7 linked regions of the Homo sapiens genome follow. The protein of the gene in region 4 interacts with the protein of the main gene of each other region in a pairwise test. Each region holds a gene or a part of one and is shown on either strand. Other genes may lie near its edges.

Region 1 (3,500 bases), on a different chromosome or scaffold from region 4:
CACCCACTTGGGGCCTTCCTTAGGAGTGGCAGCATCAGTACCATGTGGCCTGACCCAGCTTCAGCCACAGCTGAGTCACGTGGCAGTTTGGATTGCTGCCTTGGCCAAGGAAACATGCCATTTTTCCATTTGGTCTTTGAAACAAAATAGCTGGCTGAGTTCCCAGTGGCAGTGCACAGGAGTGGGATTTCAGCTATAGGGAAAAAGCAGGGGCTTGGCTGGAAGGAAAAACTACAGGCTTCAAGGAATAACAAGCATGGGTTCAGATCATGGCATGGCCAAGATGCTGGGGGTGACCTTGGGTGTCTCTCTCCTCCTCAGTTTCCTCCCCCGAGAAGCAGAGATAGCAACAGCTTTCCCACTCAAGGAGACAGCACCTGTTGAGGGCTGCTAAATAAACATTTGCTGCCTTTCCTTCCAACATGTGCCCATGTGGTCATAGTATGAATGGAGATCCCACCCCACTATATTCTTTTTTTTTTTGAGACAGAGTCTGTCTCTGTTGCCCAGGCTGGAGTGCAGTGGCGCGATCTCGGCTCACTGCAAGCTCCGCCTCCTGGGTTCATGCCATTCTCCTGCCTCAGCCTCCCGAGTAGCTGGGACTACAGGCACCCGCCACTGCGCCCAGCTAATTTTTTGTATTTTTAGTAGAGACGGGGTTTCACCATGATCTCGATCTCCTAACCTCGTGATCCGCCCGCCTCGGCCTCCCAAAGTGCTGGGATTACAAGCGTGAGCCACCGTGCCCGGCCTGTTTTGTTGATTTTTAAAGCCCGGGGCAGTACTCTTGGAAAATGTCCCACATCCTGGATTTGCCTTTCTGTTTCCTTGAGGGCAGATTCAGACAGAGTCTCGCTCTGTCCCCCAGGCCGGAGTGCAGTGGCACTATCTCGGCTCACTGCAAGCTCCGCCTCCTGGGTTCAGGCCATTCTCCTGCCTCAGCCTCCCGAGTAGCTGGGACTACAGGCGCCTGCCACCACGCCCGACTAATTTTTTGTATTTTTAGTAGAGACAAGGTTTCACCGTGTTAGCCAGGATGGTCTCGATCTCCTGACCTCGTGATCCGCCCACCTCAGCCTCCCAAAGTGCTGGGATTACAGGCGTGAGCCACCGCGCCCGGCCCCCAAACCCCCATTTTCTAAATCACCTATCATGTGATTATACTACGTCAATAATGAAAATATAAATCCGCAAAGAAAGGGAAAATCTGAGAAGAGCCTGTCCAGGACCTAGAGGCAGCAGGTCTGAGCCCCACTCCCACGTAGCCCAGAAAAGAATGTGACCCACATCTGGGCAAACTGCACCCAGAGTCTTCCTGAATCCAGCCCCAATGCATACAGATGAGAAGAGGAGGCCCTTGTAAGGTCACAGCAGCCCTTACACACTGGGTCCTCCCTGTTCCCCATCCCTTGTCAATCACTGCACCAGCACATTCCTCTTAGGCCATCGCCCTTTCATTAGGGGCCTTGTGTTCTGTCCCATGCTGTCTTTCTGCAAGTAGCCCAAGGGCTGGGTGCAATCTCTCTCACTCACCTATCCCTCCAGCACCTGCTCAGGATCCACCCCTGGTCAGAGCCTGGGTCATGTAGCCCCAGTGAGCTCCATAAACCAAGGCTCAAGGGGGCAAGTCAGTGCCCACAGCCACCCGGGTAGCCAGTTCTGCCTGGCTCCAGAGTCCTAGCCTTTCCTGAACACCATCCCGAGGCCTCCCCACTGCAGATCTGTGGGTGAGCAGGCATGAGAGGAAGGGCAGGTAGGAAAGTTGGGGGGCTCACCATTTCTCCACCAGCACCTTGCAGGCCTTTGCTTGTGCAAACAGCTGATTCACCCGGGTCTCTTCTGTGTCAAAGTGCTTCCTGTAGAAGGACTGAACAGAGAAGAGGGGGATGGAGTGGCCACCACCCAGGCTGCCTTCACTCCATTTAGATGAAGGAAATAAAGAGCGTGTTACAGAGGCAGAGACAGCAGGAGGGCAGAGGAGCCCCACCTGCCAGGGCAGACGGTACATGCAGCAAGCCAGATCAGAAAGCTGTCTGTCCTAAGCAGGAGCAGGGAAGCAGGACCACACAGAGGCATGAGGATGATGCTTGAGAGAGGGGTGGGCAGCTGGGCTCAGGTCAGCTCTCTGGGGAGGATCGATCACCCTTGGGCTTGTACACTCTGGCAGGCATGAGCAGGAGCCCGTAGCGAATAAGCAAGGGGGATGAGGCTGAACCACCTGGGACAGCTCAGCTACAGCTTGGCTTAGCTAGGTGTCGTCCACGGAACACACTTTGCTGGCATGGCTATGTTGGCATTATTTTTCAAAAGGCAAAAAAAAGAAAAGATGGTATTTTGGTTTTCTTCTAGACTACCAATTATATAGCTTAAAAGCTGGCTCTCCTGGTGAAAAGTAAAAAAATGTGCAAATGATGGCCGGATGAGGTCAGTGATGTTCTCAGAGGCCCTGGGCCTGCCTTGTGCTGAGGACAGTAGGAAAGAACGTAGGAAGTGGCCTCTGCACATTCTGAGGGCTGTAGAAGGCAGGTGGACAGGAGCCAGGACTCAGTACTCAGATCCTCTGGGCAGGCCCGACTGCAAGGGCACCTGCTCTGACTGGCTCCCAAATCCTGCCTATAGCCTCTCTGCTGCTGCTCCCTGGTCTCTGCACACCTGGGTATCTACCTGGGTGTCTAGCCCTTGACTGTTCCCTCTTCCAACTACTGGAACCAGGTGGCCTTATACCTCTGTGTGGCCCCACATGGGAAGGCCTGGTGGCTGGTCGCTCACCTGGTTCTTGTAGCCCTTGTCGACACCCAGGGTCTGGGTACAGAAGCGGTGCCTCACGCCAAAGTGGTGCATCAGGTAGGCCAGGTCGATGGTCCAGATGCTCCTGGTCAGCTGCAGCTTCTGCAGGGCTCTCTCAAACTCACTGTCGTCCAGCTGGCCCAGGTACCTGCAGGTAGACGAGCTGGGGAGCTCAGCTTGGTCTTGAGGGTCAACTGGTCTGAGTCACCCTCCACCCACTGGCCCAAGAGCCCCGTCACAGGTCCCATTCCCCAGAAGTCTCCCTCCTTCATCATGAGACCCTAGGTCCTGCCCACACACTGCCCAGGCTGCTTGGGGCACCGTCCTGGCTCCAGAGTTGCAGGCCTGGACTCTGCTTCTCAAATCTATTGTGTCTTGTGGGCTGTGACCTTGAGCAAGTCATTGTCTTCTCTGGCCTCTTTAGCTTCATCTCTAAAATAAGGTCCCTGATCACATCAGTGGTTTTCAAAGTTTTAGGCAAAGAACGCTTTTGTTGAATTTTCTCTTGCTGAGATTCCCAGGATGTAAAACAGATGAAGATGCAGCTGCCCTGTGGTTCCAGGAAGCCAAATGAAAAACTCTTGTACAAGGTGACGGCTACAGTCCCTCTTGGCTCTCACTGTCCAGGTTTCTGTGATATTCACACAGCCTCAGCTTAACGGTCAGCACCCCATTCTCCCAGGAGCCAGAAACTGGGGAGTGGAGGGCCTCCT
Region 2 (3,500 bases), on a different chromosome or scaffold from region 4:
CTGCCCTACTGACCATCCTTCAGTGCACTGAAGGCTGAATCCTAGTCCTCGTCTCGGACATCAGGCCTGCCACATGCTGCTCATGCTGTATCTTGTCCTCATCTCATTCCAGCTCCTCACTGGGACATGCCGCTACACTGACCTCCCTTCGGTTCCTTGAATGGACTAAGCTCGGTACTGTTTGTGAGCTTTTTCTTGCTACTCCCTTTGTCTGGAATGTTATTTTCTCAGTGTGTGGCAGGGCTGGCTCCTGCTCATGACGTGGGTCTCTGCTTAACAGAGGTGTTCCCTGACTGCTCCAATCTCAAGTGACACAGAAGAAATCCTTCTTTCCCAGTCCCTCTGTCAAGATACTCAACTTTCTTTTCCTCCAAAGCACTTGTTATCTGAAATGATCCAACTTGGTTTCTTTACTATCTGACTGCCCCAGGTGGAATATAAGCTCCACTGGGCAAGGCCTCCTTCTGGCCTCAGTCCTGAATGACTGAAGTGGTGGCACAGGCCACAGGAGGCCACAGGAGGTTGGTTGCTGCTGCTCACCTGCACTGCTCATGCTGCCAGCCTGGCTCGAGCTGGGCTCTGCCACAGGGTGACTGAGGTCTTCCACACAGGAAGGGACAGATGCCAGTAGACCTGGGAGAGAGGCGAGGAGTAATCAGAGTGCCGTCTCGCAGGATTGCAGAGGGCTACAGGGCAGGATGAAGCAAGTGGGGGTGGGGAGGGTAGGAGCAAGACACTGAGGTTCCATTTCCTCCCACAGCCCCACAACTACTCAGGAAGGCCCAGTTCATCCCAGCCTGCAGTGTCCCATACCCAGCGAAGGTGTCAACCTGAAAGACAGCACTCAGTCTCCCTTTGCAAGTATCTGGACATCCCCATCTGGCCCCCTGAGCCTGTAGGTGCTGTCCTTCCCTTCAGTGAGCTAGGTGTTTGTCTCCTTACAGAGTCCCCGGTAGCGCGAAAGCTGCTGGTAAATCTGCTTCATTCGTTCAATGTTAAGCCGGCTGGTCTCGGCATGGTTGACGATGGGCCGTGGGTAGTCCACACCAATGATGCACTTGGCTGCCTTCTGAATTGACTCTGGGGCATTCCAGGGCTCATAGATGTATCGAGAGGGGAACGCTTTCAATTTGGGCAGGTATCGCCTGAAATAAGATACACCAGATGACCCATCAGCATACCCAGACCCTCCTTCAAAAGGCCCAGGGTATCCCATCCTAGTAGGAGGCCACAGTGGTCAGAGGCCAGAGAGCCTGGTCTGTATCCTCACCTGATGTAGTCCCCACTGGGGTCCGTGCGACGGCCAAAGCCCACAGGGCAGTAGCAGTGGAAGAACTGCTGGAAGAAAGCACTGCAGGACAGCCACATCCAGCTGCCTGCGTTCACGCTGAAATCTGCATCCAGGAGCAGCTCATCAAATACCTAGATAGGGGAGGGGATGATCAGCCTCCTTGGGGACATGCAGCCATGTTTTTTCCCAAGTCACCACAGTGCCCCCAGGAGCCAAAACCCTTCCATTGAAGGCAAGCCACAGAGGATCTGGAGGGGATCTCCTGGACCCAGAAATCCCACCTCATCCCTCAGCCCAGAAGGGGGCTGCCCTTTGACGGGCCTGACCAGAGGGTACAGGCCAGCTTTTCGTTGAGAGAGCACTCACCCGGACCCCGCTCTCCCAGCTGACCCAGAGGTCCCCGCGGGTCAGGAAGCAGGCCACGGCATGCCGGGCCAGGTGGTGGATCCAGCCCTCCTGCCTCAGTTGGGTCATGATGGCATCAATCCAAGGGAAGCCTGTCTTGCCCTCAGCCCACTTGGCCAGGGCCTCAGGATTGCGGTCCCAGGGGATCTGGATGCAGATGGGGTTCCCCTCCATGCGGTCAAACCTGGGGTTGTTGGTAGCTGCCGTGTAGAAGAACTCTCGCCATAGGAGTTGCCCAAATAGGGAGAGGGGAGGTGTGCTGTTCCGCTTCACCTGAGAGGTAGGGGTGGCACATGGATACAAACACTCGCCCAGCTCTTAGCATGGTGCCTCTCAGGTCTCTTCTACAAAGGAATCTGGGCCCTCCAAAGACCTAGTGGCTCAGCTGCCAGATGTGGAGGGACTATCCCCTAGAAGTGGCACAGCATGCCTGCATGTGAAACACCCAGGCCCTGCCTGCACTGTGCCACTGCTCTGAGCAAGAAGAAAGCTACAGAGGGCCAGGCAGTGGGAAGGGGCCTCACCACAGGACTCTGCACTAGGATTCAAACTTCCCAAGACTGGTCATGTTCCTTGTCCTCAAGAGTTCCCTGTTTGGCTCCACCTTCTAGAAAGTCAAAAGGAATTTTCCTATCAGCACACATGAAAAATGCTCAGTCTAGATTTTGGTTGAATAAATTATACACACAGCCTGGATCTGGGGCCATAAGGTAATTAAGAAATCAGACCTCCAAGCAAATAATGACTTCCCTAAAGTCACAAGATTACTCACCAAACTGGCAAAGCTATCCCATGCCACAAAATCTCAATAATGGCAAGGATGAGGAGATAACATTTAAAAACCTAGATACAGCCAGGTGTGGTGGCTAGCATCTGTCACTTTGAGAGGCTGAGGTGGGTGGATGGCCTGAGCCCAGGAGTTTGAGATCAGCCTGGGCAACATGGAAAAACCCAGTTTCTACAAAAAAATACAAAAAATTAGCCAGGTGTGGTGGCATGCACCTATAGTCCCAACTGCTGGGGAGGCTGAGATAGGAGGATCACCTGAGCCTGAAAGGTTGTGGCTGCAGTGAGCTGTGATCATACCACTGTACTCCAGCCTGGGTGACAGAATGAGATCCTGTCTCAAAAACAAACAAAAAAACAAATGTAGACACAACGGCTAGGCATGGTGGCTCACGGCTGTAATCCCAGCACTGTGGGAGGCCAAGGCAGGACAATTGCTTGTGCCCAGGAGTTCGAGACCAGCCTGGGCAACATAGCAAGACCCTATCTCTACAAAGAATGTAAAAAATTAGCTCTACTTGAGAGGCTGAGGCAGAGGGATTGCTTGAGCCCAGGAGTCTGAGGTTTCAGTGAGCTGTGATCAGGCCACACTACACTCTAGCCTGGGTAACACAGCTAGACTTTGTCTCTTAAATAAACAACAGAAACAAAAAACATAGGCACAAGATGAGGTGATCCCTCTGAATGCTGACTGTGTTGCCCTCTCTCCTTCTGGGGACAGTTAACACAGGCTTATTTGCTTCTTGTCTGTATAGCACAGCCCTGTGTGCAGCCCCTCCACACCACTCCCTCCATCACTGATGGGCAACTGCTGTTCCTGGACTCCCCTTTTGAATGCTGTGGACACAGCTCCAGAGCGGGCAGCTATGCTCTTCCACTTCAGACTGGCTCCAGCCTCACCCTCTCCATGCCTCTCACCCTGGGGACCTCGCCCCTGTCCACCAGCTGCCAGAGGATATGCCACCTCTAGGGTCACACCTGAGGCCTGCTTTTCTGCCTGTCCTTCTGCTCTACATGA
Region 3 (3,986 bases), on a different chromosome or scaffold from region 4:
ATAAGAGGGGATTAAGAGAAGAAAAAGCTTTGGGCAAATTATACACTGAAGGAAAGGAAGATAGGAAACAAGGCAACGATAGATTGGAGCTGATTATTTCAGGAAGTGATTTTTGTTCTATTTATCTTAAAAATAATATAAATATAGTGAGACATAGAGACAACAGATGGATGGATGGTCACTGACCTCTTACTAGGAGTGGCAATGTGAACATTGGGACGCTTCCTGGTGCATGTACCCTGCAATTGTTAGTTTAGTACCCCTATTCCCTTTGTGAAAGAGGCCAGGGATTTTGCTTCCCCCAAATAACAGTAACAGCAGCAAAAGCAGCAACAAACCCTTCAAATCTGCTTACCCTGCCAGATATTGTTTCACTTTCCTCATCTGTAAAATAGGGATTACTTTATGATGGAATCCCCACAACAACCCCCGGAGGTAGGTACGATATAAGTGCCTTGTTCCAGGTCATACAGCTAGGTAGTGTCAGAACACAGATTGAAATTCAGAAGCCTGGCTCCGAAGTTTGAGCTCTCATTCACCGCACTACATATATCTATGGGAGGATAGGCGACACATGCATGTAATAAATGTGTGAGCATTTATTGTACTGGAAACTCTCCAGCTCCTCCCTCTCTACATGATCCTTTGCTTCTAATTTTGTCAATCACAGCACCTTCCCTGGCCCTTACTTTGTTCTTGCCAATCTCCTCTCCTTGAGCAGAAGAGGGAAGGGAGCCTGCTCTGTAGGTGAACAGCTCCTCCGCAGAGGCATCCTGTTTTCTTAGTGCAATCACTAATTCGCATTGCAAAATGCTTTATTACATGACTGGGTTGCCATTCTAGGAGCATTCACTGAGCGCTCAGAGTGGGAACGTTTATCAGGCATGCAAATGCTAACTTACTTTCTAGAGAATGTTTAACTTAAAAGCCTAAAGAAATCTCAGATAATTCACTTCGGAGTAGAAACCTCCTTCAGCCGCGCTCACTACGGCGCCCGGCTTCGCGGCACCGGCCACTAGAGGGCAGTGGCCGCCGCAAAGCCGACGCGGGCGGTGGGCTCGGCGGCTCGGCCATCGCTTGCTCTCGCCTGGCAAGGGGCTCTCGGCCGTGGATTAGCGCAGCTGGAGACGTGGGAGGCCGCGGGCCCCGCCCCCGACCGGCGGCGGCTGCGGCGGCCCAGCGCGGCAGTCGGCGCTGCGAAGTGGAGGCGCTGCGAGCGGAGCCGCGCGGAGGGCGCGACCGGCTGGTCCGGGCAGCGTGGGTTTGCCGCCTTCGGGGCTCCAGTCCGCGCGCCAGGGCTCGAGCAGTACCGCGGGCCCCTCAGGTGGGCCTCGGCTCGGGACGCCGGGAGTCGGGACCGCCAGTCGGGGCGCCGGGACCATGGCGCTGCGCGCCCGGGCGCTGTACGACTTCAGGTCGGAGAACCCAGGAGAGATCTCGCTGCGAGAGCACGAGGTGCTGAGCCTGTGCAGCGAGCAGGACATCGAGGGCTGGCTCGAGGGGGTCAACAGCCGCGGCGACCGCGGCCTCTTCCCGGCCTCCTATGTGCAGGTGATCCGCGCCCCCGAGCCTGGCCCGGCGGGAGACGGCGGCCCGGGCGCCCCGGCCCGCTACGCCAATGTGCCCCCCGGGGGCTTCGAGCCCCTGCCTGTCGCGCCCCCCGCCTCCTTCAAGCCGCCGCCTGACGCCTTCCAGGCGCTGCTGCAGCCACAGCAGGCGCCGCCTCCGAGCACCTTCCAGCCGCCCGGCGCGGGCTTCCCGTACGGCGGGGGCGCCCTGCAGCCGTCGCCTCAGCAGCTCTACGGCGGCTACCAGGCCAGCCAAGGCAGCGATGATGACTGGGACGACGAGTGGGACGACAGCTCCACGGTGGCGGACGAGCCGGGCGCTCTGGGCAGCGGAGCATACCCGGACCTCGACGGCTCGTCTTCGGCGGGTGTGGGCGCAGCCGGCCGCTACCGCCTGTCCACGCGCTCCGACCTGTCCCTGGGTTCCCGCGGCGGCTCGGTCCCCCCGCAGCACCACCCGTCGGGGCCCAAGAGCTCGGCCACCGTGAGCCGCAACCTCAATCGCTTCTCCACCTTCGTCAAGTCCGGCGGGGAGGCCTTCGTGCTGGGGGAGGCGTCAGGCTTCGTGAAGGACGGGGACAAGCTGTGCGTGGTGCTGGGGCCCTATGGCCCCGAGTGGCAGGAGAACCCCTACCCGTTCCAGTGCACCATCGACGACCCCACCAAGCAGACCAAGTTCAAGGGCATGAAGAGCTACATCTCCTACAAGCTGGTGCCCACGCACACGCAGGTGCCGGTGCATCGGCGCTACAAGCACTTCGACTGGCTGTACGCGCGCCTGGCGGAGAAGTTCCCGGTCATCTCCGTGCCCCACCTGCCCGAGAAGCAGGCCACCGGCCGCTTCGAGGAGGACTTCATCTCTAAGCGCAGGAAGGGCCTGATCTGGTGGATGAACCACATGGCCAGCCACCCAGTGCTGGCGCAGTGCGACGTCTTCCAGCACTTCCTGACGTGCCCCAGCAGCACCGACGAGAAAGCCTGGAAGCAGGGCAAGAGGAAGGCCGAGAAGGACGAGATGGTGGGCGCCAACTTCTTCCTGACCCTTAGCACGCCCCCCGCCGCTGCCCTTGACCTGCAGGAGGTGGAGAGCAAGATCGACGGCTTCAAGTGCTTCACCAAGAAGATGGACGACAGCGCGCTGCAGCTCAACCACACGGCCAACGAGTTCGCGCGCAAGCAGGTGACCGGCTTCAAAAAGGAGTATCAGAAGGTGGGCCAGTCCTTCCGCGGCCTCAGCCAGGCCTTTGAGCTGGACCAGCAGGCCTTCTCGGTGGGCCTGAACCAGGCTATCGCCTTCACCGGAGATGCCTATGACGCCATTGGCGAGCTCTTCGCGGAGCAGCCCAGGCAGGACCTGGATCCCGTCATGGACCTATTAGCGCTGTATCAGGGGCATCTGGCTAACTTCCCGGACATCATCCACGTTCAGAAAGGTAAAGCCTGGCCCTTAGAGCAGGTGATATGGAGTGTATTGTGCAGGCTGAAAGGGGCGACTTTGACAGCAGTACCACTGTGGGTTTCAGAATCATATTCTACAGGTGAGGAAGCGAGCAGAGACGTGGACGCCTGGGTCTTTTCCCTAGAGTGTAAGTTGGATTGCTCGACAGGCAGCTTCCTCCTCGAGTATCTTGCATTAGGGAATGAGTACTCTTTCTCGAAGGTTCAAAGAGTACCTTTGATGACAGTGCTATCATTTTAGAGTTTGAATAGTTGAGTAATGAGCTGCTCAAATCTGTAATCTTGAGACGAGGGTAGAATTAGAAGGGGACCTAAACCATGTTAGGTATCTGTTTGAACACTGCACTGTCACTTAGTGGTGAGTTTCAAAAAGTGAGGAAATAATGGAGAAGAACGGATGTCTGTAAATAGAAATCTGCTTTCACCCTTCCACACCTCTCAATCTCTGCTTTGGTAGAGGAATTAAGATCAATTCTCTGAGTTTAAGAAATTCCTGCAAAGAATTCTTGCCTGCAACCTTTACGAAGTGAAGTAATTTCAGGAAAAGCGTACTCATTTTGAGTTTGAAATCTATTAATGTACTGAAATTGAGAACGTTGTTTAGGAAAATTGTTTAGGGAAACTACATAGAATGAATATAATCTGAGTATTGGATCTGAGAGCAGCGTTGCTGGTATCCCAGTGAGTTAGCTGTCCAACTATCAGAGTTCATGAGTTATTAATAGTTGTTAGTGTCTCTGACCTTTGCTAAAGCACCAGAATTTGCAAATTAAAAAAATATATAGCAGTAGTGCTTGTCTTAACATTTCTTACTAATGTGCATTCTCATATAATGCCTTGATTGAGAGAATGGGGAGGTGTGGGAGTTAGGGAGGCAGTCTTGCCTGTGAAAGTCCAGTGTAGGGGCGGCTGGGCAGGGAAACCTACTCCTGAGCAGGGAAACCTACTGTCCCTGTTTCC
Region 4 (4,293 bases):
ATGACATCCAGTGTTGTCAGGAGATGAGAAAATAACGTAGACTTGGCTGGACTCTGTTGTCAAGGCCATTCCCAGTCACAGAGGAAACATCCCAGGTGGTCTCCAGGCGTCCAGGTGGCTCTGCACCTGCCGACCCCCAGAGGCCAGTGAGGTTCTGGCAGCAAGATGTGCTCCATTAGGCAGGCAAAGCAGGGCGACCTGAACCAACGACATGTGTGGGGGTTGTGGTCTCCACATTCTATTCATGTTCGAGGAGCGTCAGTCTCCCAAGGCTGCGGATGGAGGCCCCTAGGGTGCTGCGACTCCCACTCCTCACCTGCCCCTAACCCTGCCGCCATGGCCACTTTCACCCATGCCTCGCCGTGGGGAAAGGAAGGCCCGCAAACCCTGCCCCTGGCGGACAGGGCAGCCCTTGCCTCTGCTCAGTCAGTGCACGGAAATGCCCACAGCTCCAGGGAAACCCCCTAGCAGGCAGAGTGACCGTCAAGGTAAGGCCCACGGTGGCCCAGCAGCAGCACACAGCTCAGCGGCCCAGACCCCACCCTGGGGGATGCCCAGAGGCTTCCTAGACCTGCACTCAGGCAGACAAGCATGTGGCTGGGCGGCCACCAGCAGACATCTGGCCGCCTCAGGAGGCTCTTCCTGGCTCTAAAGAGAATCCAGTTCCAAATTCCCACTTTCTCTGCTCAAAGTTACAGTGTGGTCATAATTGCACGCTCTCATGGACCCACGTCCCACCCGAGTGACAATGATGCCACAGCCACTCAGCTTCTAGCTGGCTCTACTCCTGCTGCCTTAGGATCCCTGCTGGGGCTGCACCCCCCCCCCCACCCCGAGACACCAGCTGTGCCCAGATGGCCCCTGCTGGCACTCACTGTGCCCCAGGCCTTCCTGGCAGGGGTTCCTGCTGCCGCTCCCCAGGAGTGTCCTGTTCCCTCCCAGCGCCCCATTGGGACGCACACCAACAACTTTTCTGACATGTGAATAATTCACCTAGCGTGGGGCCAGGCTCATGAAGACCTCCCCAAGCCTGCCAGAGAGGTGGTCAGGAAAGTCCCGGGCCGGGAGATGGATGTGCCATCTCACACGGAGAAACGGGGGCAGAGCCAGGTGCTGGTTGGACACCCCTCAGAACTTGGCTGGAGGGGACGGGAGAGGAAGATAGTGTCACAGCCTAGGCAGGGCACAGCCTGGGGGCCGGAATGAGTTGGAGAGTGAGGGGAAAGGAGAGGCAAGGTGGGAGGAAGGCTGCCCAAGTTACCGAGTCTGAGGCCAAGTTCCAGGAAGAGGCAGCATTCTCTCTGCCAGGAGGGTGGAGCCATCTGGCCCAAGCAGGGACCTCCACCTGGTCAGGCTTCACACCCCATGCTGTGTCCCACCTGGGAGGGCCCATCCCTTCCCTTCCACCCCACCCTCAGGACCCACAGGGATGCATCACACCAGAAGGGACTTGACGAGGCCACAGTGAAACTTGCGGACGTGGCGGTAGAGGTCCCCGGACTGCGTGAAACGGCGCTCACACCACCGGCAGGCATGCGGCTTCTCTCGAGTGTGCACTACGGTGTGCCGGCTCAGGTTGTGGGAGTACTGAAAACTTTTGCCACACTGCACACACGTATAGGGCTTCTCACCCGAGTGTGTCCGCTCGTGCCTCTTCAGTGTGTATGTGCACGAGAAGGTCTTCCCACAGAGCGGGCAGGTGGGTGCCACGCCGTCGGGTGAGAGCCGGGCCCGGGTGCTGTCTCGCTCACGGAAGTGGGCACTGAGGTGCAGCTGCAGCACGTGGGAGCTGGGAAACAGCTTGCTGCACAACGGGCAGATGCAGAGGGGCCCACCAGGCCCCAGCTCGTCCTCACTCGCCAGTCGCCCTGCACCAAGCTCCAGCTCCCGGCTGCCCTCTCCGCTGAGGGGCAGCGGCTGCAAGCCCACCACCAGGCCCTTGGCTGCAGGAACAGGAGGTGGCTTCGGGGGACTGTGGGGGCTCCTAGAGCTGCTGCTCTCCTCCTGTTCGGACAGTGAGTCCCGTTCGTCCTTCACCAGTGGCTGGGCCCCTGGCTGCCTCTGGCTGCAGAGGGGTGTCTGGAGGACGCACGGTGGGTGGACCCGCTCCTGCCTTGGGCCAGACTTCAACGACAGGTCCAGGGCCTGGTCTGACTCTTCTGGGACCTGGCAGGGAGGAGGCCCAGATGCTCGAGGAGGGAGGGCAGCCTTGACCCCAAACGGGGGGAGCTTGGCCTTTCGGGCAGCTGGGCAGAGGTCCGCGGTCCAGACAGGCCAGGGGCACGGTGGCTGAGCAGGTTCTGCCCCAGGGGCAGGGTTCCCCGGGTCCAGACTTCGATCCTTCTCCTGGAGCCTGCCCTTGCAGACCTTGACGATGTCATACATGTGCAGGTAGCTGGCGGCTGCCAGGACGTCCTCCACAGGCAGGCTGCGCAGGTCCAGGCGGCCCTCGTACATGAAGTCCAGTAGGCGGCCGAAGGCGGGCGCCGTGACGATGTCGCCGTTGAGCCGCACCGTGTCGCGACTGCCCGCGGGCCGGTCCCTGTAGAAGAGATGGAAGTAGACGCTGCACGCGGCCAGCACGGCACGGTGGGCCGGGAAGCGCGCGTCGCCCACCAGCACGGTGCAGTCGCATAGGAAGCCCAGCTCGCGCTGCTGTCTCAGGCGGCCCAGCAGCCGTCCGCCGTGCTCAGGGAACTCCATGCCGCCGCCGTCATCACCTGGGCACAAACGGGACGCCCGTCAGCGCGCCTGGAGGCGCCCACGAAGCGCCCTTCCCGGCTGCAGGCAGCGCGGAAAGAGCGGCGCGGGAGTGACGCGCGCAACCTCCCGTCCAGAGCCGCCGCGGGCACCTGCCCCGAGCAGGAAAAACTCGATCGAAAGTAAACAGTAGCAGCTCCGCCGCGGGGGCGGGTCCCGGGACTCAGGCGCAGGAGCCGGAGCCGCGCAAACCTGCGCGCGTCCCCGCCCGGGCGCTCCTGAACTTCACTCCCGGGCGGCCGCCCGCTCGCGGCGTCCCCGACGCCCGGGTGGCTGCGCCGCCACCCGCCCCACGCCTCCGCGCCGCCTCCAGCTGCCGCCCGGCCCACCAGATGCCGCCGCCGCCGGCCCCATTTATGGCAGCGCGGCCGCGGGGAGCGGGGAGAGGGCCGGCGGGCGGGCGGGGCGGGCAGAGCCGGGAGCCCACCCCCAGCGCTCACCTCCGCCGCCCCGAGCTCCTCTCCGGTCGCCGCTCGCGCGCGCGCCCTCCCCAGGGCGGCCCTGGCGCGCGTGGAGCTGCGGGCAGCGCGCCCCGGCGGGGAGGGCGCGGGGACGGCGAGGGCGCCGGGCGGGGCGCGCTCCAACTTGGCTGGCCCAGCGCCGCCCGCCGCTCGCCCCGCCCCAGAGAGAGCGAAACTCGGGGCGGGGGCCGGAGGGGGCGGGCCGAGCGACTTCCCGGAGCGGCGGAACCGCTGAGGTCACCCTCGCCCCCCCTTCCCTGTCCGCCCCACCCGGCCGGGCCCCGCGCGCAGCCAGCAGGGGCGCTGGGGTGTGAGGGGGGTTTAGGGCACTGCGCGGGGGCAGGGGGTCTCTCGCGATACTTGGCGCTTTGGCCTGGGTCCCCCACCTCCCAACCTTTCCCGGCATGGGGTCCTTACTGCGCCAGTCTGCAAAAGGAACCCTTCCGAGGGTCCGCTTGTATCCCAGCCCGCGTTGGGCAGTCACCCGAGGGTAAACCCGGGACCCTGGCCTCCCGCCACCTCGCAGGGCGCCGGCCTTGGGATGGCGTAGGGGTTGCGTGGATTGGGGGTCGTTAATTTTGCAAAGATGACACCTCCTTCTTCCTTGAAAGCCTCTTTTTGAATTTAATTCAGCTGGGACCCTCTTCCAAACATTCAAGCAGGATGTCGATCCTAGAGTCCAGAACGGGGACTTCCACCCTCTCCACAGACCCCAGCCCAGCGTCTATGGGGGACCCAGCGCAGAGAGGCACGGAAAACGGGCACCTCCCAGCAGACATGGTGGCACGGGGGGACAAACGCCATAACAGAGACAGTCGGAAGCCCTCCAGAGCCCAGGGTAGGCAGGAACGTGTTCAAAGAGGAGGAGACTCCGGACAGGGGCTGGCATGGGAGTGGGGGTAGGGAGGAGTGGGGGAAAGTGTTCTAGGGCAAAGAAGCATTGAGAAGATGTGAGGGGGACGCCTGGTTGTGGGAGAGGGAATCGCCAGAGAAGTAGAGAGTGTGTTTGGCGGGGTTAGGGTCCCTCCCAGGCAGATGGAGCCTTTTCCCAGGGGCACAACCTGGGCTGCCC
Region 5 (3,500 bases), on a different chromosome or scaffold from region 4:
GGTTCACGTTAGATATGGCTAGTTACTTGAATCCTTGACCCTAAGGGATTTTTACTAGTATTACTTCCTTAACTTATGAAAATTTTCAAACAGACAGGAAAATTGGAGATTTTTTACAGGGAACACCTATGTATATATACACACATTATATGTGTGTGTATACATATATCTATATATATATATATATATATATGTATGCTATATATTCTATATAGTGTATATATACAGTATATATTCTATATAGTGTACATGTACACTATATATTCTACTCTATAGTATGTATACTAAGTATATACTATATATACTAAATTCTAATATTAATAGTTTACTCTACATGCTTTATTACATATTCATCCATTTATCAGTCCTCTATCCACCCATCAATCTGTCTTATTTTTAGATGCATTTCAAAATAAGTTGTATATAAGTATGTTTCCCCGTAAATACTTCAGCATGCATAACATTAACTAGAACTCAATGTTTGCAGTTTTTTCTTTTGATGTAAAATTTACATAAATCCTAATTATACCATTTAATGATTTTTGACAAACAGCTGTGCTTGTTTAAATAAAACTGCTATCAAAATTTAGAACATTATCATCACTCCAGAAAGTTCCCTGAAGCCCTTCTGCAGTCAACCCCTCCCCTTCTTTCCCACCCCCACCCACCGCACACCACACCTCTGTCATGTGTTCTTCTACCAGAGATGAGCTATGCCTGTGCGGCCTTATCTATATGGAATCTTGTGGTATGCACTCTTTGATATCTGGCTTCTTTTGTTCATCACAGATTTTTTGAGATCCATCCATATTGTCCTATATATCAGTGGTTGGTTCTTTTATATTGCTGGATAGTATTCCATTGAATGAATCTAGTGTTTGTTTATCCGTACTCCTAATAATGAACACCTGTTTTCCAGCTATTATGAATAAAGCTGCCATAAACATTCTAGTATGTACCTTTTTTTTGTAGACACATATTTTCATTTCTCTTGAATAAATAAATACCTAAGAGTGGAATAGCTGGGTCATGGAGTAAGTAATCATTTCATTTTATAACTAACTGCCGGACCTTTTCCCAAAGCTATTTGGCAACTGTGCTATTCTGTACTCCCAGCAAGAATGTAAGAGTCTAGTTCCTCCACATCCCTGCCAGCTTTCTGGTGGGTGTGTAGTGGTAGAGTGTTGTGGTTTTAATTTGCATTTCTCTGACAATTCATATTAAACACTTGTTCATGTGTTTATTGGCCTTTCATGTATCTTTTTCAAAGTGTCCAAGTCATTTACTCATTTTTGTTGTTTGCTTTTATTTTTGAGTTGTACAAATTCTTCATGTACCCTAGATACCAGTCCTTTGTCAGATACATGTTTTGTAAATGTATTTCCTCCTGTGGCTTACCTGTTTTTCTGATGCCTTTTATGAGTAGAAGTTTTTAATTTTGGTGAAGCCTAATTTATCCACTTTCTTCTTTTGTGGTTTTTGCTATGTCCTGAGAAACCTTTGCTACCTGGAAGTCATGAAGATACTCTTAAGTTTTGTTTCTAAAGCGTTACGGTTTTAGCTTTTACATTTAGACCCGTGATCCATCTTGAACTGATTTGTGTTTTACTGAAATTAAAGATACAAAACAGAAAACTCTCATAGCAATTCTGTTGTGATTTGATAGCTTTTAAATATAACTTGGCAGTCAAAGTTTGTTTTAAAATAAACTGTGGTTAAGTGACTCATTGGACTGAGGCAGGCTGGCTGATGATCACCGTGGGTTCTGACAAGGTGAGAGCAGAACCAGCCATTACTCACTATGGCTAGAGTCAGTCATGGCTCTCCAGGAGAAATACAATTCAATTATTGGTAATTGAGAATTTGAAAAAAATAGCTGCTTAGCTGTTTTAAAGATGTAGGTTAGTTCTTAAATTTTGAGTTCAATAATGAATCTGGATATAGTTATTTTACATTTGTCATTAAAAGCTCTTAAAAATGGTGTAACTGGTGAGGTAACTGGAGGGCAGTAACTGAGAGGAACCCTCTATGATGAGCAGATGAACAACTTCCAATTGGTTTGCAGGAAGTTCTGCTTTGATTCCTAGATAATTGCTTTATGAGACAAGCCTGTGTTTAGAGGAAAGTTCTCTGATTACAACTCTTAAAAGATAAATGATCTAACTTCATTCCTTAACATTGTAAGAAGGAATTAATTTTTAAAAGAGAGAAAATTTGAAGTACTTTGAAAGAAAAATATAGTAAGAATATGTGATTCATTTTTAAAATTAAAATTTGGCATATCCTTATATTCACTCCATTAAAAAAAAAATCTATAATGCTCAGTAAATGTTAATTCATCTGTGCCCACGATGCCAGGACATGAGTTTAGCCAGAATGTTACGCCTTGGGCCCCAAAATGTGATCCATATATTGAAAATATCAGTTTTCTTAGTAACTGGGTAAAACTTAAAGAAGAGTCATGAATTAGAAGGTATAACCCGAAGAATGTTTAAAAGGTGCAGTTTGAGCTTATTTATGCTCATAGGATGTATTCATGGACATTTCCTTAAGACAGAGAAAACAGTTTTTTTCCAAAGGCTTTCTTTCTGTTTGTGATTCTAGGATGTAGCCTCTATTGAATTGAATATGTCATCTACTTTTGATCTTTAGTGCAAAAGCATTCACTGCAGGCATAACTTATTTGACCACATCTGCTTGTTTTGATATTATTGGTAACATTTTGCCTACTTTACAAAAAAAAAAAGGAGGGGGCAAAACCCAGGAGCCAGATAGTTACAATCCAGATGGTTTGAGGGGAAAATACTAAGAGAAAATACTTGATTCAAAACCACCCATAAATATTGAGCCATCACTGAAGTTCTTGTTGGAAACATGTCTCTGAGCTCTGCTATCCTCTGTCTTGGAAAGAGCCTATTAGAGTGCTGATCTTTGCTACTAGTACTCTGTTGTACTGTTCTCCTGGAGAGCATAAACTTGTCACCCAAAAGCTAGATTGTGGCTGGAGTTATTTTGATGGGATATGTCCCTTTATTGTAAAAGGCTGTAAGTCCATCTAAAAAGGAACTCTCAGACATGTTTACCCTAAAACCCCAGCTTAGGGCTGGGCACAGAGGCGGTGCAAGACAAATATTTATTGGCTTGAAATGAAAAGGTTGCTTTATAGCCATGAAACTGCAAAATGCAGGAAGGGACTATCAGAAAGCTGATGTTGACAGTAAGGAGAAGGATTTTTCATGCTTACCAGGCATCCTCTGCACTCCAGGCTAGAATGTGGAGTATGTCGAAAAGGTCAATCATCGCCCTTGCTAGATCTTTTCTTAAATTCTGGCCCATATGCTGAGAAGGATCAGTGGTGCTCTCAGGCTGCCTGCCACCTGTTTACATTCTGTTACTGCTTCTTTGCCTTTGATTTTGGCCACTGTCTCTCCGGAAGTGTAGGCATGGATAGGTTGCAAAAAGACACGGAATTGATTCAAAACTCTTCTTACTATCTAATA
Region 6 (3,500 bases), on a different chromosome or scaffold from region 4:
CAAATCACCTGGCAGATTACATGGTCCATAATAAGAATAGGCTCCTCAGGACATTTACAACCACATCATTAGTTATCTTGGAATGATGGCATTATCACGTCACTTTTCTTGCTTGGATTCACTAAGGAACATATCTTGCTACTTAAAACTCTTTCAGTAAGGGCCTGGGATCAGCAACACACCAATAGCAATGAACATATCTAGCTCCCTGGTCTCGGTTTCTGAATACCATTCTCCACTAAAATGAAACAGACCTTAGAAAAAAATGGCCAAGAATTAGGGCAGGGAAAATACAAGATGAGCCTGTAATACCTTGTTGCACCAGAAAGAAAGCATGCAAAGAATGCTGGGGACATGATAAAAAGATGTTGAAGTCTGGGACAACTTGAGCATCAATAAATAATCTGTTGCCATTCATGTATGCTATTAAAATAGAAATACCTGTGTCCCTTTTGAAACAAATAAATAAATAAATAAATAGGCCAGATGCAGTGGCTCATGCCTGTAATCCCAGCACTTTGGGAGGCCGAGGTGGGAGGATCACTTGAGGCCAGGAGTTTGAGACCAGGCTAGGAAACATAGCTAGACCCCCTCTCTATTTAAAAAAAAATTAAAAATTAGGTGTGAGATCGTGTACCTATAGTCCTAGCGAGTCGGGAGGCTGAGGTGGCAGGATCACTTGAACCTAGGAGTTTGAGGCTGCAGTGAGCCATCATCACATCACTGCATTCTAGCCGGGGCAATGGAGCGAGACCCTTTCTCTAAAATAATAATAATAATAATAATAATAATAATAATAATAAGTGAATACAGTGACAGATGCAGAATTCAATGTTTACTTAGTACAAAGTACTGACCTAGAAAATAAATAACAGAGGGGAAAATGTTACATAGAGAAGCTTGACTGTACCTACCACTTTATTCAAATAATCAAAACAGTAAGGTGACAAAAATTGCATATAATTTTGCAGTGACAATCTTTTTAAAATTTTTTTTAAACAGGGTCTCGCTCTGTCACACAGGCTGCAGTGCAGTGGTGCATTCACAGTTCACTGGAGCCTCAAATTCCTAGGCTCAAGTGATCATCCTGCCTCAGCCTCCTGAGTAACTGGGACTACAGGTGCACACCACCATGTCCAGCTAATTCCTGTATTATTTTTGTATAGACGGGGTCTCACCATGTTGCCCAGGCTGGTCTTGAACTCCTGGGCTCAAGGACTCCTCCTGCCTCGGCCTCCCAAAGTGTTAGGATTACAAGCATGAGCCACTATGCCTGGCCTGCAACTTATTTTTATCATATTCCTGCCAAAGATATAAACCTGAATTAAAGAAATGGATAGGGCCAGGTGTGGTGGCTCACACCTGTAATCCCAGCACTTTGGGAGGTCGAGGCAGGCAGATCACGAGGTCAGGAGATTGAGGCCATCCTGGCTAACACGGTGAAACCCCGTCTCTACCAAAAATACAAAAAAAATTAGCTGGGCGCGGTGGCGGGCGCCCGTAGTCCCAGCTACTCAGGAGGCTGAGGCAGGAGAATGGTGGGAAGCCGGGAGGCAGAGCTTGCAGTGAGCCGAGATAGCACCACTGCACTCCAGCGTGGGCGACAAAGCGAGACTCTGTCTCAAAAAAAAAAAAAAAAAGAAAAAAGAAATGCATAGTTCCAAACCAAGGGACAGTAAACAAAAATAGCTGGCTCATAATCTTCAAAATGGTCAAGGCCATGAAAGTCAAGGAAACACTGAAAAACTGTTCCATACTGAAGGAAACTAAAGAGACATACAATTAAATAAACACTTGATCCTGACCTGGATCCTTTCACTATAAAGGATATTATTGGGACAGCTGGCAATGCTTGAGTTTCAGGATTCAATTACAGTAATGTAATACTGTTTCCTGATTGTAATAGTTGTATGATGGCTATCCTTGTTTGTAGAAAGGAGAATATCCTTGTTTGTAGAAAATGCACATTGAAGTATCCAAGAGTAATAGGCAGCAAGTTGGCAACTTACTCTCAAATGATTCAGGCAAAGTTTTGTATTGTATTTGTACTGTGTAACTTTTGTTAGTTTGCAATTGCTTCCTCCAGGGGAAGCCACATATAACAAGGACACTTTGATGCAGGGGGTGCCCAGACCTCAGGGCAAAAAAACAGCACCAAGTCCAGGTTAGAGTATGAACAGGTCCTTTTGATTGAAAGCACAAGAAATGTAGTCTGCGCAGCCAGAAGCCTTACAAAGGAGGGGAAATTGGCTCTCCGGAAGAACAGAACTAATACACAGAAATAGGGGAGGAAACTTAGAATAAAGAGGTTAGCTATGATTGATTTCTGTATGTTAAATAGAGCCTAATAATTGGAAGCCTAATCCAAACATTTGACCTGTACCAGGCACCTGGGATTGCAGATGAGAGGGTCCCACCCCTATAGAGATGATCAGTGAGGACAGGCATGGTGGCTGACGCCTATAATCCCAGCACTTTGGGAGGCAGAGGTGGGTGGATTACCTGAGGTCGGGAGTTTGAGACCAGCCTGGCCAACATGACAAAACCCCATCTTTACTAAAAATACAAAAATTAACTGGGCGTGGTGGTGCATGCCTGTAGTCCCAGCTTCTTGGGAGGCTGAGGCATGAGAATCACTTGAACCTGGGAGGCGGAGACTTCAGTGAGCTGAGATCATGCCACTGCACTACAACTTGGGTGACACAGCAAGACTCCATCTTGGGCTGGGTGTGGTAGCTCACACCTGTAATCCCAACACTTTGGGAGGCCAAGGTGGGTGGATTGCCTGAGCTCAGGAGTTCGAGACCAGCCTGGGCAACACAGTGAAACCCTGTCTCTACTAAAGTACAAAAAATTAGCTGGGTGTGGTGGTGTGTGCCTGTAGTCCCAGCTACTCAGGAGGCTGAGGCAGGAGAATCGCTTGATTCTGGGAGGCAGAGGTTGCAGTGAGCCAAGATCGCGCCATTGCACTCCAGCCTGGATGACAAGAGTGAGACTTCGTCTCAAAAAAAAAAAAAAAAAAAAAAAAAAACTAATGGAAGTGGGAAGCATGAGATTTTCCAGCAAGAAAAATGTGCCCTGAAAATACCACTGACCTACTGATAGTGTAGGATGGTAACGTACTGCCCCCCTCCTGTTACCAAACAGACATCAGTCATTGCTAATTAGTTGGACAGCTCTCCAGGTGGGCATTACCATCTGTAGGCGCTGGTAGGTATCAGAAAGGAAACTGTGCCACCTTCTAAGCCCTGACCTCCATCTCTGCTGAATCCCAGCTCACAGCTGGGCTGTGCAACGCGCAGGTGCTCTCACCTTGAGGAGGAGGTCCTCAAGACTGTAAGCCATGATGCCCTTCCTCACGCTTCGATCCGCCGTGCTTACGCGGCAGGGCCGGGCCCTGGGGGCCTTGGGGCTGGGCTCCGACAGCAGCTGCTGGGTCACCACAGAGGTACGCACTGACACATGCCTGGGGCAGTTGAAGCATCAGGGTGAGCCACCCA
Region 7 (3,500 bases), on a different chromosome or scaffold from region 4:
AATAGGAAATTCTTGAGTCTGCCCAGGGAAAAGAATAAAAAGAACTTAGAAGGAAAAACAAACAACAACAAAAAAAAAAGAAAGAAAAAGTCACCAACACACACGTATCCCCATCCCGATTTGGAAGCACGGTGTGCACCTGGCGTGAAATCTTCACCCTGAGAGCTGATTGTGTCAGTGTGGCCATAATGTACACAAAACTGGCTGCAGAACTCAAAATCCAATTTGTGGTATGTTGATTAACTCTGTAGCCTCTTTAATGAGCTTGACATTAAGTGCAGGACAAACGAGACTAATTAGAGCCCCCTCCAGCCTGCCCAGTGCACCTGTGACCCCGCCCCCCCCAATCTGTCCTTACTTGGTGCTTTCTCTGGCACTGGCCAAGCCCAGTGTCTGTCGTCCTCCCCACCCCAGCCCCATCCTGCTGGCTCCTCAGGCCCCTCCCTTCCAGCCCCTCCCTTCAGCACAGCTGAGAGTTTATTATATGATGAGCCGTGTGAATCAGGGATCCATCAATGCCAAGAGCACGGCTGGACTAACCTACCAAACACAGCTGCTGATGCTAAACACCCGGCCCCAGCAGCAAATGGGCCAAGAACAACGGAATATTAATGAGGCATTGTGTGTGGGGTGTGCACAGCCTGTATATGGCTTGTGTGCGCAGTGCCTCGCTGGTGTGAAAATTGATGGGTGTTTCTCTGTGTGTGCATAGGCAGCACACATGCTCCGTGTTTCCTAGAATAAGCAAGGGCTTCTCCCTAACTCTGGAAACAGCCCCTCCCCGTGGATCTGAGCCATGACTGACACAAGAGCATGTGACATTTTCATATCTGAGCTCTGAGAAGGTGGCATGGTCAGAGCAGGGCACATCCTGGGTGGATTTAGCAGGACTGAGATCATTCAAGTCACATGAAGCCAACTGATTGGACCCAGTGGCATGCTCAGAAGTGGCTGAAAGGTATCTAGCCATCTTTCATAAGACCGAATGAACCTGGGGAACTGTTGAGGGAGGCGTTCATAGGAAGGTGCATATAGCTGCAGGGGAAATGCTTACGCAATCGCTGTAGAGAAAGTCCTTGTCAACATCCCACTCTCCTGGGCCCTTTTTATTGAGCCCACCCCTCTGGGCCCTACCTCCGTCCTGTCCCAGAAATTTTAAGTAGTTCTGTGCAAATCTGGTGATGCTAAGACAATGTGCTCCCCTGAACAAAATGGCATCCAGAAGTGACAGCCAGGAAGGCTCCTTAATGAGGATACCTGCTGCTGGCTGGCCAGGCCAGCTCAGTCCATGAGAAGTAAAGCTCTTCCCTTATTTAGCAGAGCCTGCCACCCATGCAAGACCTGGTCTGCATACTCAATCTCTGAGCTGTGACAAGACTCTCAAAATGAGGAGAGGGCCTACTGTTCCTTTACGTGGCATGCAGAGGTTTTTACAAGTATACGCTCTGTTATATACCCAGATAGAGACCTGACCCCAACCCTCCCTACAAACACAGCACACAAAGGCAGACTCAGAAATGGGCATTCCTTTAACCAGGTAGTTTCAGCAGAGCCCCAGTTTTGTCATAGAGAAAATAAGGAATTTAAGCCATCCACTCCCCTGTTAGGGAAAACTGGGAGCTGCTGCAGGAAAGCAAATGCCTCTTGGCCATCAGGGACCAAGTGTCCCCATCCCTCAAGCCCTAGAGGCTGGTGGCAGGGAATGGCCAGCCCCTCAGCACCTGGCCCAGCCTCCTTACCTTGTACCCCCTCCCTTGTCCCATCACCTGGAACTGGCTGAGCAGTGATATTTCATTGCTCATCGTTTAAATGCCCTCCTTGTCTTCCCTAAACAGGGTTAAGGTCCAAGTACAGGCCTTTGTTACTGTGGGGAAAGTAGGATCACTGCTTCAACTTGCCCTCAGAAGCCCGAAGCTGACTTCAGAAATGTGTATGGATAGAGCGGCGGGGCATCAAGAGTGGTGGGAGGCAGGGCAGACAATGTTAAGAGACCCAGCAGGTCAGTTTTTCTCAAAATTCATTTTGGGTCTACCTACATGAGAATCCCTTGGGAATACATATTAATAATGCTGAATCTGGGACCCCACCCTGGACCCATGGAATAAAAGGTTCTGAGAGTGGGACCCAAGAGCCTGCCTTTTTAATGAGCATCCTGTGTTGAACACGGAAAGACTTTGAACCGACGGTCCACAGGAGGGGACTGGGAGAACTGTCCACATTTACCTGCACGACGGGCAGCCTCTGCACGTCCAAGCCTTGAGCAGAAGGACTGAAGGCTGACTCAGCCCACCACCTCCACTTTACGTCCTTGGAGGTAAATATAGACGCTGGCTCCCAGAGACCCAGATCCACCCATCAGCTGGACTGACCTACCTGTATGTGAGCGCAGGTGGCGTTTGAGAGCCGTGTGGCTGGGGAAGGTGCGGTTGCACTCACTGCAGATGTAGCTGCGCACGCCCGCGTGGACCTCCATGTGCTGCTGCAGTGCGCTCTGCGCCTGGAAGCGCTTCCCACACAGCAGACAGAAGACGGCCATGTCAGTGCCTGTGGGAGACAGGAGAGGGGGTGCCTCAGAAAGGTGGGAATACAAGGTGCATTCTTTACCCATCTGGAGTGAGAGCCAGTGTCGGGACTCACACCTCCAAATCCCCATGCTCAGGGGCAAATCCAGAGTGGGCCCAGGCTATGCAACACTGAGCACCCAGTATGTGGCCCCAGTGATGGGCAAAATCGACGTCGTTCCCGAGCTCTGGAAGCTAAAGCTAAAGGATAGACATTGATCAAATACATCGCAGCAGCAAGGGTAGTGGGCAACTGTGTCGGGTGGTATGTAAAAGGCGGCAAGGTACTAAGACAGCATATACCAGATGGACTTCACAGAGTACAGGGCAAAAAGTGGGGGAGGCAAGGTAGACCCTGCGAGAAAAAACAATAACAAAGATACTATGGGCCAGCCATTGTTCTAACATAACTAATATAAATCCAAAACTCAAAAAGCTAGCCTCTGTTATCCTCATCCCTTAGACAAGGAGACTGAGGCACAGAGAGATTAAGTACTTTGGCCAAAATCCCACAGAGCAGTGGTCCCCAACATTTTTGGCACAAGGGACTGGTTTCATGGAAGGCAATTTTTCCACGTATGGTTGGGGGATGGCTTTGGGATGATTCAAGCACATTACATTTATCATTAGACTCTCATAAGGAGTGTGCAGCCTGGATCCCTTGAATGCACAGTTCCCAATAGGGTTCATGCTCCTGTGAGAATCTAATGTCGCCACTAATATGACAGGAGGCGGAGCTCAGTTTCACTCGCTCGCCTCCTGCTGTGCAGCCCAGCTCCTCACAGACCATGGCCCGGGGGTTGGGGACTCCTGCCATAGAGTTCGTAAGTGGCAGGGCTGGGGTTCACACTCACACACCCTAGATTTTAATGCTTTCCCAAGACTAGCTACAGATCCTGTTTTGTTTTTTTTTTTTAACTACTTCTCCACTCACTAAAG

The links.
Region 1: the proteins of ZBTB42 (region 4) and GUCD1 interact in binary tests that used the Homo sapiens proteins (3 or more experiments, as listed by UniProt).
Region 2: the proteins of ZBTB42 (region 4) and CRY2 interact in binary tests that used the Homo sapiens proteins (3 or more experiments, as listed by UniProt).
Region 3: the proteins of ZBTB42 (region 4) and SNX18 interact in binary tests that used the Homo sapiens proteins (3 or more experiments, as listed by UniProt).
Region 5: the proteins of ZBTB42 (region 4) and MYLIP interact in binary tests that used the Homo sapiens proteins (3 or more experiments, as listed by UniProt).
Region 6: the proteins of ZBTB42 (region 4) and CIDEC interact in binary tests that used the Homo sapiens proteins (3 or more experiments, as listed by UniProt).
Region 7: the proteins of ZBTB42 (region 4) and ZBTB16 interact in binary tests that used the Homo sapiens proteins (3 or more experiments, as listed by UniProt).

What each region holds. Positions count from the first base shown.
Region 1 is NC_000022.11:24,545,139-24,548,638, forward strand, and holds part of GUCD1 (protein GUCD1), read right to left. Parts: intron 2,936-3,500; coding exon 2,770-2,935; intron 1,868-2,769; coding exon 1,776-1,867; intron 1-1,775.
Region 2 is NC_000011.10:45,867,975-45,871,474, reverse strand, and holds part of CRY2 (cryptochrome-2), read right to left. Parts: intron 1,970-3,500; coding exon 1,658-1,969; intron 1,423-1,657; coding exon 1,271-1,422; intron 1,146-1,270; coding exon 943-1,145; intron 634-942; coding exon 541-633; intron 1-540. UniProt on the Homo sapiens protein: Transcriptional repressor which forms a core component of the circadian clock.
Region 3 is NC_000005.10:54,516,573-54,520,558, forward strand, and holds the start of SNX18 (sorting nexin-18), read left to right. Parts: upstream 1-1,186; 5' UTR 1,187-1,380; coding exon 1,381-3,001; coding exon of another isoform or gene 3,002-3,267; exon of another isoform or gene 3,268-3,986.
Region 4 is NC_000014.9:104,799,608-104,803,900, reverse strand, and holds the start of ZBTB42 (zinc finger and BTB domain-containing protein 42), read right to left. Parts: upstream 2,801-4,293; 5' UTR 2,704-2,800; coding exon 1,435-2,703; 3' UTR 1-1,434. UniProt on the Homo sapiens protein: Transcriptional repressor. Specifically binds DNA and probably acts by recruiting chromatin remodeling multiprotein complexes.
Region 5 is NC_000006.12:16,135,586-16,139,085, forward strand, and holds part of MYLIP (E3 ubiquitin-protein ligase MYLIP), read left to right. Parts: intron 1-3,500. UniProt on the Homo sapiens protein: E3 ubiquitin-protein ligase that mediates ubiquitination and subsequent proteasomal degradation of myosin regulatory light chain (MRLC), LDLR, VLDLR and LRP8. Activity depends on E2 enzymes of the UBE2D family.
Region 6 is NC_000003.12:9,873,754-9,877,253, forward strand, and holds part of CIDEC (lipid transferase CIDEC), read right to left. Parts: intron 3,467-3,500; coding exon 3,313-3,466; intron 1-3,312. UniProt on the Homo sapiens protein: Lipid transferase specifically expressed in white adipose tissue, which promotes unilocular lipid droplet formation by mediating lipid droplet fusion. Lipid droplet fusion promotes their enlargement, restricting lipolysis and favoring lipid storage.
Region 7 is NC_000011.10:114,241,211-114,244,710, reverse strand, and holds part of ZBTB16 (zinc finger and BTB domain-containing protein 16), read right to left. Parts: intron 2,545-3,500; coding exon 2,374-2,544; intron 1-2,373. UniProt on the Homo sapiens protein: Acts as a transcriptional repressor. Transcriptional repression may be mediated through recruitment of histone deacetylases to target promoters. May play a role in myeloid maturation and in the development and/or maintenance of other differentiated tissues.